Regions from separate parts of the Homo sapiens genome. Here all the other regions are linked to region 1. Evidence: fine-mapped expression QTL. A gene starts in region 1. Each other region holds a variant in brackets. All regions are shown on one strand. Distances are from middle to middle. Region 1 holds the start of TNFAIP6 (TNF alpha induced protein 6). Region 2 overlaps NMI (N-myc and STAT interactor). Region 3 has its middle 9.1 kb from the start of NMI.

What was found. PIP is the estimated chance that this variant, and not a neighbour inherited with it, causes the effect.
Region 2: its variant is the best candidate, but not a certain one, in a credible set for the expression of TNFAIP6 in whole blood (INTERVAL, PIP 0.84).
Region 3: its variant is the best candidate, but not a certain one, in a credible set for the expression of TNFAIP6 in whole blood (TOPMed, PIP 0.64).

Annotation. Positions count from the first base shown.
Region 1 is chr2:151,354,533-151,360,529 of GRCh38, reverse strand. TNFAIP6 (TNF alpha induced protein 6) reads right to left here and starts at 2,938. Exons shown (of 6, transcript NM_007115.4): 1 at 2,770-2,938. The coding sequence starts at 2,863. The region is part of intron 2 of LOC101929319 (a long non-coding RNA gene); the gene reads left to right.
Region 2 is chr2:151,278,110-151,284,106 of GRCh38, reverse strand. NMI (N-myc and STAT interactor) reads left to right here. Exons shown (of 8, transcript NM_004688.3): 2 at 1,153-1,239; 3 at 2,064-2,159; 4 at 5,117-5,279. The coding sequence starts at 1,159. Among named protein-coding and RNA genes, the nearest start is that of NMI, 8.6 kb to the left of the region's middle. The variant G/A (reference allele first, on the strand shown) is at 3,440.
Region 3 is chr2:151,295,793-151,301,789 of GRCh38, reverse strand. No RefSeq gene overlaps it. Among named protein-coding and RNA genes, the nearest start is that of NMI, 9.1 kb to the right of the region's middle. The variant C/A (reference allele first, on the strand shown) is at 3,616.

The DNA of each region.
Region 1 (5,997 bases):
TCTAGTCAATAGTCATTTATTAAAACTGAAAATTTGTTTAATAAATGTTTTCTCCTTTTAGTGAGTGGCGGCAGTAGAAATGGACTTTGGTTCCACTGCTGTTTCTACCATGGAGTTGTATAACCAGATGAGCCTCAGTTTCCTCATTTGTCAAATGGGACTAATGATAGCTTCTGGACCATAGAAGGAACTCAAGATACGTCACTTTTCCTTTCTTTCTTTTTTTTTCTCTGAGACAAGGTCTCACTCTGTCACCCAGGCTTGAGTGCAGTGGTGAGGTCACGGCTCACTGCAACGTCTGCCTCTTGGGCTCAAGTGATCCTTCCACTTCAGCCTCCTGAGTAGCTAGGACTACAGGCATGCACCACCACACCCAGTTAATTGTGTTTTTTTTGGTAGAGACAGAGTTTCTCTATGTTGCCCAGGCTGGTCTTTTTAATTCCTGGGGTCAAGCAATCTGCCCACCTCAGACTCCCACAGTGCTAGGATTACAGGTGTGAACCACTGCATCCCACCTTCCTTTCCCTTCTTTTTCAGATTCAACAATAAAAATAATTGCTTATCTGTGCATTTTTTATTCTCATGATCCATGTAAAATGATTGTAATTTCTTGTCCTTAACTGTGGTTTGTTTTTGTTTTAAGTACTATTTTAAAAATTAGATGATACCAGAGTTAAAATAAGCCTTAGGGATCCTTTACTTCAACCTTATCATTTTACCAGATTGGAACCATAACCTAGAGAATTTAAAGTAAACTTGTCCAACTTGCGGCCTGCCAGGACGGCTTTGAATGTGGCCCAACACAAATTTGTAAACTTTCTTAAAACATTATGAGTTCCCTGGGCCAGGTGCGGTGGCTCACGCCTATAATCCCAGCACTTTGGGAGGCCAAGGTGGGCGGATCACGAGGTCAGGAGATTGAGACCACCCTGGCTAACATGGTGAAACTCTGTCTCTACTAAAAATACAAAAAATTAGCCAGGCGTGGTGGCGGGTGCCTGTAGTCCCAGCTACTTGGGAGGCTGAGGCAGGAGAATGGCGTGAACCTGGGAGGCGGAGCTTGGAGTGAGCCGAGATGGTGCCACTGCACTCCAGCGTGGGCAACAGAGCGAGACTCTGCCTCAAAAAAAAAAAAAAAAAAAATTATGAGTTGCCCAAGACAATTCTTCTTCCAATGTGGCCCAGGGAAGGCAAAAGATGGGACACCCTAGATTTAAAGTGTCCTGTTCTTGATAGTTGCTAACAGATGTATCCCTTCTAATCCAACTATCTTTCCTTCCTAAATGGTTTCTAAAAAGATTATATTGATCCAACCAACTATAAACATCTGTGCTAGGCTGGCTGGTCAAAAATTTGCCCCAGATTGAAGCAATTTGCAATTATCCTGACCCTCAGATTTGTAGCATACATTAATAGACGTTTGAATTTGCTTCTCTCTACCTCTGGGGCAAAACTTCTATTGTCCAGGTTTATATTTTTGTAACATATGACAACACTTTAAAAGACAACTCTAAATTACTTGATTATTAGAGGGTTTGATAATATTTCAAAGTTTATCTGCCTGGATTTAATTCTTACTAGCTTTATGACATTTAAAAAAAATCCTGACAAATATGAGTGTATTTCCTATATTTGACTGTATTCAACTAAAATAAAGAGATGGGCTCATTCCTCTACTAAATTTCAGATCCCGTCTTGGCCAAATGGATCACAGTGAAATTAGTTCACTGGCTCAAGCTGAAAAAAATAGGCGGCAAGGCTGTGCATTACAAATTAGGCTTTTTAATGAAATCCGCATGGTTGCAGTTATTACCAGAGAGAAACATGCTGAAAGGGAAAATATTCTACAACTGTGCTGTTTAGAAAGCATAAAATCAAAATCTAGGTTAATTTCGCCTTCTCTTTATTTCTTTATTCTATGCAAGAATCTATGCATTTTTCCCCAAGAAATTCAATTTTTTTTTACTATTAAACACAATAATGAACATAGAGCAATATCAATTTGTATCATGAGAATTAAAGCATTGTTTAGCATACTGTAATCTAAGGGGTGTTTTGGATTTTCTGCATTTTCCTTTTTTGATCTATTGTTTATCTTCACTGTTTGGCCTGTCTCATTCCTTACATTTAACAAAACAAAATAACAAAAGAAACTTTCCTTGTCTAACAAAAGGGTCAGAAAAGTATTTATATGGATAGTAGAAACAGAAAGAATCAAAGTGGTAAGAATGCATTCAGAAGGAGAAACATTTTTCACTTTTTTCTGTACTGCAAGCTGGCTTGGTCAAAATAGTCAAAATGTTTGAAAAAACTAAGATATAGACTATAGCTCAGAGTCCATGAAGCAATTATTATAAAATTTTCGTAGACTCCAATTTACCTGTTAGGATTCTGAAATCTGATTGCAAATGCATTGACATAAAAACAGAAGACTATATTGGAGTTTCTAGTTGGTTAAAGAAATACTCCTCACTGTACTACTACATCTGCTTTGAAAAGTTTAAAAATATATTTTCATACTGAATATAAATATTAACTGCTATTTTCTACTGAACAATTCACTTTATAAAATGCTATTTTTAAATTTTAGAGGACAAGAACGCTTAAAAAAAAAAAAGCGTATGTATTCCAAAGGCTATCTTTCCTAAGCATTTTCTTTGAGAACATCAGCCTTGTACAGAATAGAAAAAGTTACTGCTTTAAATTTCCTTCTCCATGATTTAAAGAATTGACATTCTCAACAAGAGGCTCATGAGTGAAGGTTCTTACCAAGCCATATGGAGTTATGAAAAATTCCATCCTTGAATCCCCATCCTTGAGTGTCTTCCCATAGCAAGAGAAATAAGTAAATTAAGATGATCATATCGTCAGTTGTAGTGAAGTAACAGCCTGTTAGGGGCTGCTCACAAATTCTCAGAGCAGTGGCTGAAATGTGACTGAAACATCTGGTTTCCACATCTTTTAAATAGTTTTTTTCAACTGTGAGGTCAGCAAGTACTCTCCAATGGCATTTTCCGCTGTAGAGTTACACAATTATCTCAGTGTCTGAAGCAAATCCTCTGACTCATTTGCATTGGCAACCAAAACTAAGGAGATAGAATGATCATCTATGTTTTAAAATTAACTTACTAAGAACGGAGTTCATTTATTGTTAGTCACAAACACTTTTCTGTTAGAAAGTTTGTGTAACTTGATGCAGATTTAGCAGTGATTAAAAGAAAATCGAACTTCAGTAGGAATTTCAAGATAAATCCTAAATGTCTTATTTGCAGTGTCAATTATGGGATATGGGGTTAAACACTAATCTTTTATTGGTAATGTTGGACTGGCTTTTCTAAACATTGTCAAGCCTGTGTAAAAAATTTAAAACAAAAAGTATGCACAGCTTGGAGAATCCTAATTTTTCTCCAGTGATATATGACTTCCTTATTCTCTGCCTGCTTTTCTTCCAGGGTGGGGTCTGTTGCAGTCTTTGGTGTGTTATGGTCAGCAGCTAAATAAATGTATCAGCTCCCAGAAAAGTATTTCAATTTCAGAGCGTCAGGATGTTCCAGCAGCTTTGGGATGTCCTATTATAACACAGTTTTCCCAGGCCACAAATTCTTGAAGTGTTGGGAGAAAGGTGGGTAGACTAACAAAGTTAATAAAAACTTGTCCCTAGCTTCCCTAGACCACTCTAACTTTGAAGAAGACGATCAAGGTAATAGATAATAATTATTACAGTAAAGTCATCATGTCTTCAAATATCCCAAACTTTCCTCTTCCTTTGTGTAGAATCCTTGGGTAACATATCTGATAATACTCCCACTACCGCTGATGCTAATGGCATTTCCTATTGTTCATTGATAGCCATTTATTGGCAACTTTTGATTTTTTTACAAAATTGGTCATTTTTTGCTACTTAGATTCTCTACTTTTGGTCTCAAATTGCTTCCCATTCACTCCTATTATAGCATTCATTTCTCCCATGCTTTCTTAGTCCCTCCAATGATGTTGGAGTTCTTTGAAAAAGCCAACTTGCTAGACATGCTCTGGTTTGAAGTTAGCTTTGAATCCCTTAGACATCTTTGCTTTGAACATCTCAGGTGTGTTCTGGTCTCATCTCTTCTCAAAAGAGCAGTTATGGGGATGTAGGCTGAGAGTACAGAATTTATTGGATGCTCACTGAGGTATACATAAAGTTACTAGCATTGAAAATCTTTATTTTGGACTGGTGGCACATGAAAGATGAGGGAATTGTATCCAAGTTCACAGATAGGGTTAGTGAATTTAAGTTTGTTGCAAAAGAGAAAGGTATAGTTTAGACCAGGTGGGTGTGACTATGGAGAAGACAGGCATGGTTACTGAGAGCAAGATTCATAGGTAGTTGGAAGGAATAAACCATGATATTTCTTTGGAAAGTATAATTATATGCGTATTTTAAGTTTGTGGTTTAGGAAGTAAATATAACTTTAGTTGTGCAGTGCTACAGCAAAACCTTCCCATAGTCTTTCCAATTCTTTTCTTGTCACATCCTCCAGCTGTGCCCTTTCTGCATCTCTCTCAAGCACCTAATTTCCCCCTAGTTCTCATTTATCAAAAATTACTCTCAGGAAAGGGTTTGCAATTAATCTTTAGTTAGGCCAGATAACTAAGAACAGATACCCTTCTGTGTTCATTTGCATTTTAATGAAGCTCCAAGTAGAGCGAAGTGTGAATGTTCAACTTCTTTTAACACGAAAATTTAATGAGTTGCTTTGATGAATTAACCCGATCTGGGGTGGAGGATTTCTTTCTCCCCTCTCCCAACTCTCATGCAGAATATAAATATTTCCCCTTACCTCTGCATAGTGTCTGAAAATCTCATCCTCCATATCATCAAGGAAATAGAGAATAATGCCTAATGATGTAAGTTCTGATTTTGAGGGGCATTCAATAAAGGAAAGAGGAAATGGGGTTTTCATATGGAAAAGATGCAGAGGGTAATCCTGAGGACGAGAGAGAAGAAAAGAGAGAGTAGCAAAGGAAATGTTGCCTATGAACTTACCTTGGAAGTTGTCTAAGAAGCACCCTCTGCCCAGCCTCCAGCACACACCACCCAGGATAAGCCTCATGAGGAGCTGAGAGAAGATACACTGATAAAAGTTCCTTTCAGGCCGGATGCAGTGGCTCATGCCTGTAATTCCAACACTTTGGGAGGTCGAGGCAGGAGGATCACGAGGTCAGGAGTTTGAGACCAGCCAGACCAATATGGTGAAACCCCGTCTCTACTAAAAATACAAAAATTAACTGGGTGTGGTGGCTTGCTTCTGTAATCCCAGCTACTCAGGAGGCTGAGGCAGGAGAATCGCTTGAACCCGGGAGGCGGAAGTTACAGTGAGCCAAGATCGCGCCACGGCACTCCAGCCTGGGTGCCAGAGCCAGACTCCATCTTAAAAAAAGAAAAAAAAAGTTCCTTTCAAGGTTCTGGAAGACTTAACCAGTCAAGTATTTTGCCTTCTCAGAGGAATGCCCTCCCCTTCCACTATCTCTGGGTCAAGATGTGCAGTGGCTCCTTTCGCACATATCACCACTAGCTGAAAACCCAGCAAGACTGCTTTTTGTAGAGGAGTTCCTGTTTTGGTTGCTTTTCTACAATGTTCCAATGCCCGTAAGCCTAAGCAGCTATTAGATACCTAAAGGCATGGTGGAGAGAACTCCATATCTGAATTGGGATAGGGCTGCACTGAACAAGCTTAAGATCTCTTAAGCTGCCACGATAGTTAATGATGTCACTATTGCACAAAGTTAACTGAAAAAATGAGACACTAGCCAGTGTGGTGGTGTGTGCTTGCAGTCCCAGCTATTCAGGAGGCTGAGGCAGGAGGATCACTTGAGCCTAGGAGTTGGAGGCTTCAGTGAACTATGATCATATCACTACACTATAGCCTGGGCAACAGAGCGATATGCTGTCTCGAAAGAAAAAAAACAGCAAGAGAGACGCTAAAGTAGAATTTTAAACATCTATTAGCAGTTAAG
Region 2 (5,997 bases), 76 kb after region 1:
GGATTACAGACATGAGCCACCGCGCCCGGCCAGAAATCAATTGTATTGAAATATGGTTATCAGAATATTTAAAAAGCAAATGTTTGATATAGTGATATATATCAATGTATTACAATATATTACAAGACCTAGTGGTGAGGTTAGTAACTAATGTAGAAGCAATGTTAAACACAAACTATTTTAGCATATCTGCAACAATATTCTATGAAACTATCTGTGCTTTCTATTGGTGACTATCACAGGTGCTGTGAATACTACTGTAGTTTGTTACCATATTCATAATTGAAGAGAATGCTAAGCTTCAATTAGAGGTTATTAGAAATAAACATATAATTTCTTCCCAATCCATGTTTATGGACCCAGCAGGAGAGTTAGTGAAAGCTTCAGGTAAGAACACCTGCGTAGAGAAAGCATATGTTGGAGGCCTCTTGACTTTGTTTACATTTGGGGAGAACAATAGGGAGAATTAAATATTTTAATCAAAAACTTTGAAAAACGTTGGAAAACCAAAATAGTATTCATTTAAAATGGAGCATGATATTATGGTTGGAATGTGAACTACAAAGGAACATTAATGTTCATTACTTTCTATATATTATTTTGTTGAAAAGCAAAGGATTTTTAGAATCTTTTTATATATTATAGGTGTGAAAGTTATTTGAAATATTGGCCAGGTGCTGTGGCTCACGCCTGTAATCCCAGCACTTTGGGAGGCCGAGGGGGGTGCATCACTTGACAAGAGTTCAAGACCAGCCTGACCGACATGGTGAAACCCCATCTCTACTAAAAATACAAAAATTAGCCGGGCATGGTGGCAGGTACCTGTAATCCCAACTACTTGGGAGGCTTGAGACAGGGGAATCACTTGAACCTGGGAGGCAGAGGTTGCAGTGAGCCAAGATCGCACCATTGCCCTCCAGCCTGGGCGACAGAGAGAGACTCTGTCTCAAAAAAAGAAAAAAAAAAGGAGTTATTAAAATACAGACTTTGTTTGGATATAAGCCATATGATAATAAAGCCTTTGATGATGGGAAAAAAAGATATAGCAAAGAAGAGATGTTTCTTCCATAAAAGGGTAAAAGTTCTTATTTCTTTGTTCTTAAATTTGTGTATATATGCTATGCTTATAATATTTATTTTTTATAATATTAGGGGATCATGGAAGCTGATAAAGATGACACACAACAAATTCTTAAGGAGCATTCGCCAGATGAATTTATAAAAGATGAACAAAATAAGGTAAAAAGGAAATTACTGGGTATTATTAAAAATTATTTTATATCTATTAGTTTTGCAGTAAGGCATGTTTTGTATGTCTTTGTCCAACATTACCTTGAATTTGGGAGGCCGTTAGGCTTTAAAAAAATTTTTAACTTCCATTATGTTATTTAAGCCTTACAAGAAGTGTCATATTTTTATTCTTTCTCTTATAAGGCTTACAACACTAGCTGCTTTCTCACTCACACCCTCATTTCTTGGATTTGCATCAACAAGTTAAGAGCATAGTCAGCAATTATCTCATTAGACCCCAAGAGGGAACGGAGGCCCAGGTAGCTTAAACCACTTCCCCAAGGTCATATGTCTGGCTCATTAAGGTAACTGTGTACTATGCGATACTATGGGAATCACAGATAATTAAGAACAAAAACAACAACAACACCAACAACAAACTGCCCCAGAATATGTCCGCTATTACAGTGCAATTTAAAAGTCTTATCATGCTCACAAATAGCTAGGAAAGGAGTTGATGCAGCACTGAAGTAATATTCAGAAGATCTGATCTCAATCTTTGCCTTACTATACAACTTTCTGTGACTTCGGTCTAGTGTAAAAGGTGGTTTCCTGATTTATATAATGGAGATAGTACTACTTGGCAATGTTAGAATAGACAGGTGATGATGTAAAATATTCAACAAATGCATTATTCACATAGTCATATTTATTCTGAGACTGTCTAATGTCTTTCTTTGGTCAGGATGAGAGAAATTTATAGTCTTTAGTTCATTCGGAAAAATGAGTTCAGGGGCTATTTACTTTCTTTGGTACCATTTGATATTTTTAAGGGACTAATTGATGAAATTACAAAGAAAAATATTCAACTAAAGAAGGAGATCCAAAAGCTTGAAACGGAGTTACAAGAGGCTACCAAAGAATTCCAGGTACTCTCTTAATTATTTTATATACTACATTTTTGATGGATGCATGGTTTTTGGAAAAAGCATTTTAATTACACAAAATTCATTTTTAAAACCTTATCATCATCCATGGCACCACCATTTGTAATAGTTCAAAATGGAAAACAACCCAATGATTCCTTCATAGTAGAACGAATTAGTGAATTGGGGTATAGTCATATGATAGAAAACTACACAGCAATGAGAATGAACAGATCATAATGACATGCAGCAACACAAATGAGTTTCATAAACACAATGTTAACACAAAAAAGACAGAAGAGGGCATACCATATGCTTCCCTTTAAATTAAGCAAAAGCAGGATGTTTGAAGTTAAAACAGTGGTTATTTTGGAAGCAGGTAAGACCCAGAAGGGAACCCAAGGGGGTTTCTGGGGTGTTGTCATGTCCTGCCTATCATCTGCGTGCCAATCACGTGTGTTAGCTTTGTAAAATTTCATCTTGCTGTACTTAATGATACATGCATTTTTCTATTATTTACGTACACTTTAATAAATTTACAAAAACAAAAAATTAATAAAATTTACCAAAAAAAGATGGTCATTAGCAAATTACTGTTGGATCAAATTCTGGCTTTTCTCACTGAGTTCTTTTATAATTCTTCTCATCCAAGGTGCTTTGGTAATTTAGATGAGTTTCACGGTTCAAAAAATTGGACATATATTAATCCTCACCATTTAAATTCTCTCCTAAATTTTCCTGTATTTTAATTGTACATAATTTTCACCCATTTTTTTTCTTAACAACTCAGATGTTAAAAAATTAAAGCATTGAGGCTGGGCGCGGTGGCTCATGCCTGTAATCCCAGCACTTTGGGAGGCTGAGGCGGGTGGATCATGGGGTCAGGAATTCACGACCAGCCTGGCTAAGATGGTGAAACCCTGTCTCTACTAAAAAAGAAAAATTAGCCAGGCATGGTGGCGGGTGCCTGTATCCCAGCTACTTGGGAGGCTGAGGCAGAGAATTGCTTGAACCTGGGAGGCGGAGGTCGCGATGAGCTGAGATCACACCACTGTGCTCCAGCCTGGGCGACAGAGCGAGGCGCCGCCTAAAAAAAAAAAAATTAAAGCATTGACACTTCTTGTTTCTGAAGTGGGAGATAGGATATTGAATATCAGGAAGTGAGGTTTTCTGTGTTTATGAGATGGGTGACTTTGTGCAGAAGACTCTGTTAAGATTCTGGTTACTTCTCAGACTGGAGCTAGAATCATGCAGTCTTATAACTCAAAGAGCCTTTAGAAACC[G/A]GCCAGCCCTAGTCGACCCACTTTGCAGAGGACCAAACCTGTGATCAGAGAGCTTAAGTAAATTTGCTGTCTGTCGCAGTGTGGTCAGAAATAGAATCAAGCTTTCTCACTCTAATTTCAGAAAGCCCTTGCTCCTCAGCATATACTGGGTATTTCTGCATTATTGGGTAACACTCTGCCTTTACTCAGACATTGTAGACTGTTTTGATGTCAGCCTTACCGTAATCAGAAGTTCCACTGGAGTTATGCATAAAGGCAAAGAATAAATGTAAGATTAAATTGAATGACTCACTGAATATTTCTAATCTCTGTGTTATTTTCAGCATGTAAAATAACCATGGGCAATAGAAATGCAAGCATCTATCTCATTTGTGCATTTATGTGTAGTTATATGAATCTGTTAATCCCAATAATTCTAAGCAGCTAAGTATAACCACCTACCTTTATCTTTCAGGTTACAATTTTTTTTTTTGAAACAGAGTTTTGTTCTTGTTGCCCAGGCTGGAATGCAATGGTGCGATCTCGGTTCACTACAACATCCGCCTCCCTGGTTCAAGCGATTCTCCTGCCTCAGCCTCCTGAATAGCCAGGATTACAGGCGTTTGCCACCACGCCCAGCTAATTTTTGTATTTTTAGTAGAGATGGGTTTTACCATGTTGGCCAGGCTGGTCTCAAACTCCTGACCTCAGGTGATCTGCCTGCTTTGGCCTCCCAAAGTGCTGGGATTACGAGTGTGAGCCACCTGTGTAGCCTCAGCTTACAATTTCTGTTGATACTGTCCCTTCTCATTTTTTATAAACCTAAGTTGTGGTAATGGTTAAAAAGTTGATGGGCAGGTGTTGGGGAAGGTGGAATTTTTAAATTTGATAAATTTAACATCATCTAATTCTGGGCCAGGTGTGGTGGCTCACGCCTGTAATCCCAGCGCTTTGGGAGACCAAGGCAGGCAGATCATGAGGTCAAGAGACCATCCTGGCCAACGTGGTGAAACCCTGTCTTTGCTAAAAATACAAAATACAGAAATTAGCTCGGTGTGGTAGCGCATGCCTGTAGTTCCAGCTACGCGGGAGACTGAGGCAGGAGAATTGTTTGAACCCGGGAGGTGGAGGTTGCAGTGAGCCGAGATCACACCACTGTACTCCAGCCTGGCAACAGAGTGAGACTCTGTCTCAAAATAAATAAATAAATAAATAAAATTATCTAATTCTAGAGTCTTTCTTTTTGGATGAAATTATCTGGATTTGAAATACCATATTATACCCAACACTATATTTCATACTTTGCAGCAAAATTAAACATACTATCTAATGATTTCCTTTTGAGATAGTCTATTATTGGCACTTGTTTAAAAAGTCCTTATTCACATGAATGATGTAGGCTTTAGAACTGAACACCATACAATATTGACAGTTTAAACATTGATTAGAAAAAAGTGAGAGGATTATATATTTTTAATTTCATCTGTGAAATGATATTAAAAGATCAGCATTTGATTACTGAGTACTTACATGGGAAAAAGCAATTACTAAAAATGTTAAATAAGACCATACTCAATATTCTACAAGGTTCTAAAATTAGTGGGGAATGAATTATTGGATGACCAAATTACATTATCATTGGAAGGACTTAAGTTATTTCTCGTCTTGATTTTAATCAAACATTTTCATTTGGATTAGATTAAAGAGGATATTCCTGAAACAAAGATGAAATTCTTATCAGTTGAAACTCCTGAGAATGACAGCCAGTTGTCAAATATCTCCTGTTCGTTTCAAGTGAGCTCGAAAGTTCCTTATGAGATACAAAAAGGACAAGCACTTATCACCTTTGAAAAAGAAGAAGGTATGACTAATGTTAAAAAATATGACCATGTTATTTGGAAAGCACTTTCATAGACATTTAGCTATTACTTCGCTAATATTACTTCACTTATATTATTTCTTATCCTCATAGTGACGTTCTGAGGCAGGTATGATTATTCCCATTTTACAGATGAGAAAACTGACTCTGAGACAAGTGCCTTGAATATGATCTTGTATTCAGAAAGCCATGACTGTGGGACTTAATCCAGGTGCTATGATGATGTCCAATACCAGCCTCTTTCTACTCCACATGCTACCTCCAAATAATGATAGTAATATTTCAAGGTAGTAGAGCTGTACAGTTCTCAGAGACATTATCACATTTTATACTCACACAATTCCATAAATATAGGAGGATAGGATAGTTATTATTGTGTACTTTAAATATAGACATGCCAGAGCCAAGAAAACAGATTCTGAGGATGTTTAAGTGATTTACCTAAGGGAACATAGCCAACGAATGAGAAGAGCCTGGGAGCTAGAGATTTGGAATGAAACCTAATGTTTGCTAAGTCTGCCATGGTGAGGGCCCCTGTTCAGAGCTGGGGGTTCCTGAGTGGGGAGGATCTGGCTTTGAGTGCCAGCCTTGTCCCTTCCTAGAAGCATGATTTGGGATAGGTTCTTTATAAACCTCAGGGTTTTATACAGGTGCTTCATGGTAGTACCTACTTCATGAGGCTGCTTTGAGTATTAAATGA
Region 3 (5,997 bases), 59 kb after region 1:
CACTCTCTACCCCTGTGAGATCAACGCTTTTAGCTCCATGTATGAGTGAGAACCTGCAATATTTGTCTTTCTGTGCCCGGCTTATTTCTAAAGATAATTCTTTAGGTTAATATTTTAGCTCTGTAAAATTTCATTTAAACTAGAGCCCTTAACCTAGGTTCCGTGGACTCCCAGGAGTCTATGAATGGCTTAGGTGGTAAGTGAAACATCTGAAATTTCATGCAGGTTTTGTGTATGTAGGAATGCTTCTGGGAGAAGAATTCCTAGCTCTCATCAGAGTCTCAAATATATCTGTCCCTCCCTCACTCTCGAAGTGATTTGGGGGATTGCAGTGTGATATATGTATAATAGTTCCCAATCATTTAGTCAATTAACCTTTATTAATACACATAGGATAAAAGATTGCCTGAGAAGGGCACCGTATTAGTGAGGGTTCTCAAGAGAAACAGAACCAATAGGATATTTATAGATATATGGAAAGAGATTGATTGTAAGAGATTGCCTCATGTGATTGTGAAGGTTGAGAAGCCCCACAATCTGCCATCTGCAAGCTGGAGCCCCAGGAAAACCAGTAGAGTAGTTACAGTCCAAGCCCAAAGCCCTGAGAACCAGGAGCTCTGGTGTCCAAGGACAGAAGTAGATGGATGTCTCAGCTCAAGCAGACAGAATAAATTCACCTTTCCTTTGCCTTTTTGTTCTATTTAGGCCTTCAATAGATTGGATGATGCCTGCCCACATTGGAAAGAGCAGATCTCCTTTACTCACTCCACCAATTCAAAAGCTACTCTCTTCTGGAAACACCTTCACAGACATGCCCAGAAATAATGTTTTCCCAGCTCTCTGAGCATCCCACAGCCCAGTCAAACTGACCCATAAAATTAATAACCACAGGCACTATGTTAGACATTTTTGGGAGAAACACAGATACAGCACAACTCTTATTTTGGAAAAGATTACCATCTTTGGGAGAATGAATTGTATAATCGTTCCCCAAAGACAGCAATGCAAGGCTGTAAATGTGCCCAGTAAGTGGTATGGACAAAATGTGCTAAAATAATTTAGAGAATGGAGGGATCACTAGTGGCCCTTGGGTTGCTGGAAAAGGAGCTTAAATTGAGGCTGAAGATGCATCAGCAAAGCCTGACACTGGTGTTCAGTCAGCATGCTCTAGAGGTTTAGACCAGTTGTTAAATAATGAAATATTTTTGTGTCATTTAGTAAGTAGTAGCAGTCTTCCCCCATCTCCATCCTAGCGCCTTCACCAAGCTGGCCATACCTGTTCCTCCACCAGGAATTCCCAACTTCTCTTCCCCTGAACTTCCTAAGATCTAGCAACTGAGGGATTAATGGCCAGCCTAGAAAGAATTCTCTGGGACACTGCTCCAGCACTCTGGTGAGAGCCATTCTCATGGTTCAATGTCCATGCTGAGCAGTTGTGTTTTCACTATCACCACTGCATGTATAGTGTGTGTGTGGGTTTGTTGAAAGTTCACTTGTCTGACTGTATGACTGAAATAATAGAAAGAAAAGAGGAAACAACTTAGGGGAGGAAAATAGTAAGAGAGAGGAGGCCTAGTATGTTCTGGAGTTGGATAGCTGACTAATTCAGTGGGATGTGGAAGGGAGTAATGGCTGATGAAGTTACCGATAAACTGTAGCCAGCCTGTGGTGGAAAGTTTGGTATTGGGAGTGACGGGAGGGAGTGTACATCTTACACTCTGGAATTTGGATTGTATATATGGGATGTCATCTGCAAGCGCTTAACATGTCGAATGACATGATGATACTGACCCTTTTAGAAGAATAATCTGGCACGAGTATACAGGATGAAAGGAAAGAGAATCATTAGCAGGGTAAATTCCAGATGTAGATTAGCCCCATGAAAAGTCCTGCGGGAAATTCAACTATGAATTTTCATGCAAGAGAGTATGGGGAAAAAGAGACACTGGCTGTGGCATGAGAAATGAAACTGGGCAGAATTTTTGAAATCAAGTTTTAAGAAATCTGTGCCATCTGATCACATTGCCCTTTGCAGGAGGCCAGATTAGGTTTGTGGCCACATAAAAGGGGCTGTATGAGCAGCAGAGAAAACAATTGCTGCTTGGTATATCTTCAGAGACTACATCACAAAAAACCCACTCAATATTACCCATCTTTCTTACGTGTACAGTTCATTAAAGAATATGGCAAAAATGGCCAGGCACGGTGGCTCACGCCTGTAATCCCAGCACTTTGGGAGGCGGAGACGGGCGGATCACGAGGTCAAGAGATCGAGACCACCCTGGCTAACACAGTGAAACCCCGTCTCTACTAAAAATACAAAAAAATTAGCCGAGTGTGGTAGTGGGCGCCTGTAGCCCCACCTACTCGGGAGGCTGAGGCAGGAGAATGGCGTGAACCCGGGAGGCGGAGCTTGCAGTGAGCCAAGATCGCGCCACTGCACTCCAGCCTGGGTGACAGAGCGAGACTCCGTCTCAAAAAAAAAAAAAAAAAAAAAAAAAAGAATATGGCAAAAATAAGAGAAACAGAATGAGTGAGAGAGAAAGATCTTAGACTTACTATCTGACTGACTTGTTTTTATGTGTTCTATCTAAATCTAGATCAGCAAACAACTAAGTCTTGGCAGCCCAGAATCCGTTCCTGGCACACACTGCACAATTCGAGGGGACATGAGGAGGCATTGTGTGGTGCCCATCCAGTGTCATTTTATGCAGTTGTCTTGGTGACTGTATTCAGGTCTTGCATTTTATATTTTAACCTATCAAATTATTTTCTCTATGCAACAGTCATCCCTTTCAACTCTTCTAATTATAGCTTAAAATCAGAGGACAATATTAATATTAATAATATTATTTAATTTTGCATTTACTGTTCAAAAAGTATTTTTATGTACATTAGCTAAATTAATCCTCACCAAACACCCTATAATTGGTAGGTAACATTATTGTCATCATTTTTACATTTGAGAAACTGAGAAATGGACCCTCGGAAAGCTAAAGGGAAATGCGATCAGTAGTAACATTTTTTTGAGCACCTATTATATACCAGATCCTTTACATATGCCCAAGTTCACAGAGCTAGTCAGGGTCAAAGCAAAGACTCAGCTTGGTTCTCCTGGTGATTTTAAGGTGGTGCAATTTCCATGACAAACCAGCCTACCAGGTGTTGTTTGTCCACCTGAGAAAACTTCTATTTGAGTATTGGCACCAAAATTAGAGTTCTTATTCTTCAAAAAGTTGAAAAACAGCTGAGGTCAATCTCCCAAAAGGCAACAACGTTTCCATTCCAATTCATAAAGTCGCGAAGCAGTAAGATCTGAAGGACACTGTTTTATTTTTATCGGAGATGAAGCTTGTTTTTATTTACAATTTCCCTGGACGGGTTTAAGCCCTGAGAAGGATGAATTAACTCTGCCTTTGTATATTAAACATTATCAAACATCCCCATGCAGATATTATGTTATTAAAATGAGTCCTGTGTGTGAGATCATTCTATCTTGTTACATTGTACACTAGGGCAAACTATTTAGAATAAATTGAAATGAATAATTAATGAAAGAGAAGAGAATACCTCTTTCAAGTTCCCATATACACTTGCCCTGTTCTTTTTTCTTGG[C/A]TTCTCTTACTTCCTCTTTCCACTCTTTAGTGTCATTTTGACTCATTTCCCCTCACTGTTTATTCCTTCCTTTCCCTCAGAGTAGCTATAATGGCAGCCTAGCTACAAGCAAGAAGCCAATGCTCTCTGAAGGAGATGGCACGAAAGATAGGAACAGCTCTTGCTCTTTCCTCAGGAAAAGCACACCAGGGTGTGGAGACAAAAGGACTCCATTTTGGATGCTGATCTGCCATATTGAGTCCTGATTAGCCCCAGTCCCATGAATGCCTCCTAATTCCTCATTTATTTACTGTCCTTAGTGTAAGAACATGTCAAACCTGATATTATCAGACAAACTATAGGCTATAATGCATATGGCATTCTTGCCTGTTTTGGAGGGTTGCTTTTAATTGTCTTGCTGGAGCACGTATACCCTTTCCCTGTGGTATATAAGCCCTGGGTCTGGGAAGCAACAGTGCAGAGATCTGCCTTGCCGCCACATTTCCATCTTAACTTTCCATTAAAACACTCCTTACTGACGAACTGGATTTGTCTGCCTTGTTCTTTGGTAGCTCAACTCCTTTGGCATTTGGGGGCTGCTTTGCATATACCGCCCCTTCATGAAACACAGGGACACCTAGAAATACCTCACTTTCCGTCTATGGACTCGGCCTCCAGGCTGGAAACAGTAAGAGGGTTCTGCGCTTCGTAATAGCCAGGTGGCACATAAAACCCGTCGACCAGAATGACAATCTCTGGTCATGATTTTAGTGAACCAGTTAGTGTACAGCCTTGTCACTCAAAGTGTAGCCCAAGCGTGTCCGGAATTGGTGGGTTCTTGGTCTCACTGACTTCAAGAACGAAGCTGCGGACCCTCGCAGTGAGTGTTACAGCTCTTAAAGGCGGCATGTCCTGAGTTTGTTCCTTCTGATGTTCGGATGTGTTTGGAGTTTCTTCCTTCTGGTGGGTTCGTGGTCTCACTGGCTCAGGAGTGAAGCTGCAGACCTTTGCGGTGAGCGTTACAGCTCTTAAGGCGGCGCATCTGGAGTTGTTCGTTCCTCCCGGTGGGTTCGTGGTCTCACTGGCTTCAGGAGTGAAGCTGCAGACCTTCTTAGTGAGTGTTACATCTCATAAAGGCAGTGTGGACCCAAAAAGTGCGCAACAGCAAGATTTATTACAAAGAGCGAAAGAACAAAGCTTCCACGCTACGGAAGGGAACCCAAGCAGGTTGCCACTCCTTGCTCCGACAACCTGCTTTTATTCTCTTATCTGGCCCCACCCACACACCCTGCTGATTGGTCCATTTTACAGAGAGCCGATTGGTCCATTTTACAGAGAGCTGATTGGTCCAACAGGGTGCTTACTGGTGCGTTTACAATCCCTGAGCTAGACACAAAAATTCTCCATGTCGCCACTAGATTAGCTAGATACAGAGTGTCCACACAAAGTTTCTCCAAGTCCCCACCAGAGTAGCTACAGAGTGTTGACTGGTGCATTCACAAACCCTGAGCTAGACACAGGGTGCTGATTGGTGTGTTTACAAACCTTGAGCTAGATACAGAGTGCCGATTGGTGTATTTACAATCTCTTAGCTAGACATAAAGGTTCTCCAAGTCCCCACCAGAGTAGCTAGATACAGAGTGTCCATTGGTGCATTCACAAACCCTGAGCTAGACACAGGGTGCGGATTGGTGTGTTTACAAACCTTGAGCTAGATACAGAGTGCTGATTGGTGTATTTACAACCCCTTAGCTAGATATAAAGGTTTTCCAAGTCCCCACCAGACTCAGGAGCCCAGCTGGATCCTGCACGGGGGCCGCAGGTGGAGCTGCCTGCCAGTCCGGTGCCGTGCGCCCGCACTCCTCAGCCCTTGGGTGGTCCATGGGACTGGGTGCGTGGAGCAGGGGGCGGCGCTCGTCGGGGAGGCTCGGGCCCCACAGGAACCCACGGAGGCGCGGGGGAGGCTCAGGCATGGCGGGCTGCAGGTCCCGGGCCGTGCCCCGTGGGAAGGCAGCTAAGGCCCGGCGAGAAATTGAGCACAGCAGCTGCTGGCCCAGGTGCTAAGCCCCTCACTGCCCGGGGCCGCCCGCCGCTCTCAGTGCGGGGCCCGCCAAGCCCACGCCCACCCGTAACTCGCGCTGTCCTGCAAGCACCGCGCGCAGCCCCGATTCCCCCCGCGCCTCTCCCTCCACATCTCCTCGCAAGCTGAGGGAGCCGGCTCCGGCCTTGGCCAGCCCAGAAAGGGGCTTCCATAGTGCAGTGGCGGGGCCAAAGGGCTCCTCAAGTGCCGCCAAAGTGGGAGCCCAGGCAGAGGAGGCGCCGAGAGCGAGGGAGGGCTGCGAGGACTGCCAGCACGCTGTCACCTCTTACAAGAAACAGCACCATCAGCATCATCTAGGAGCT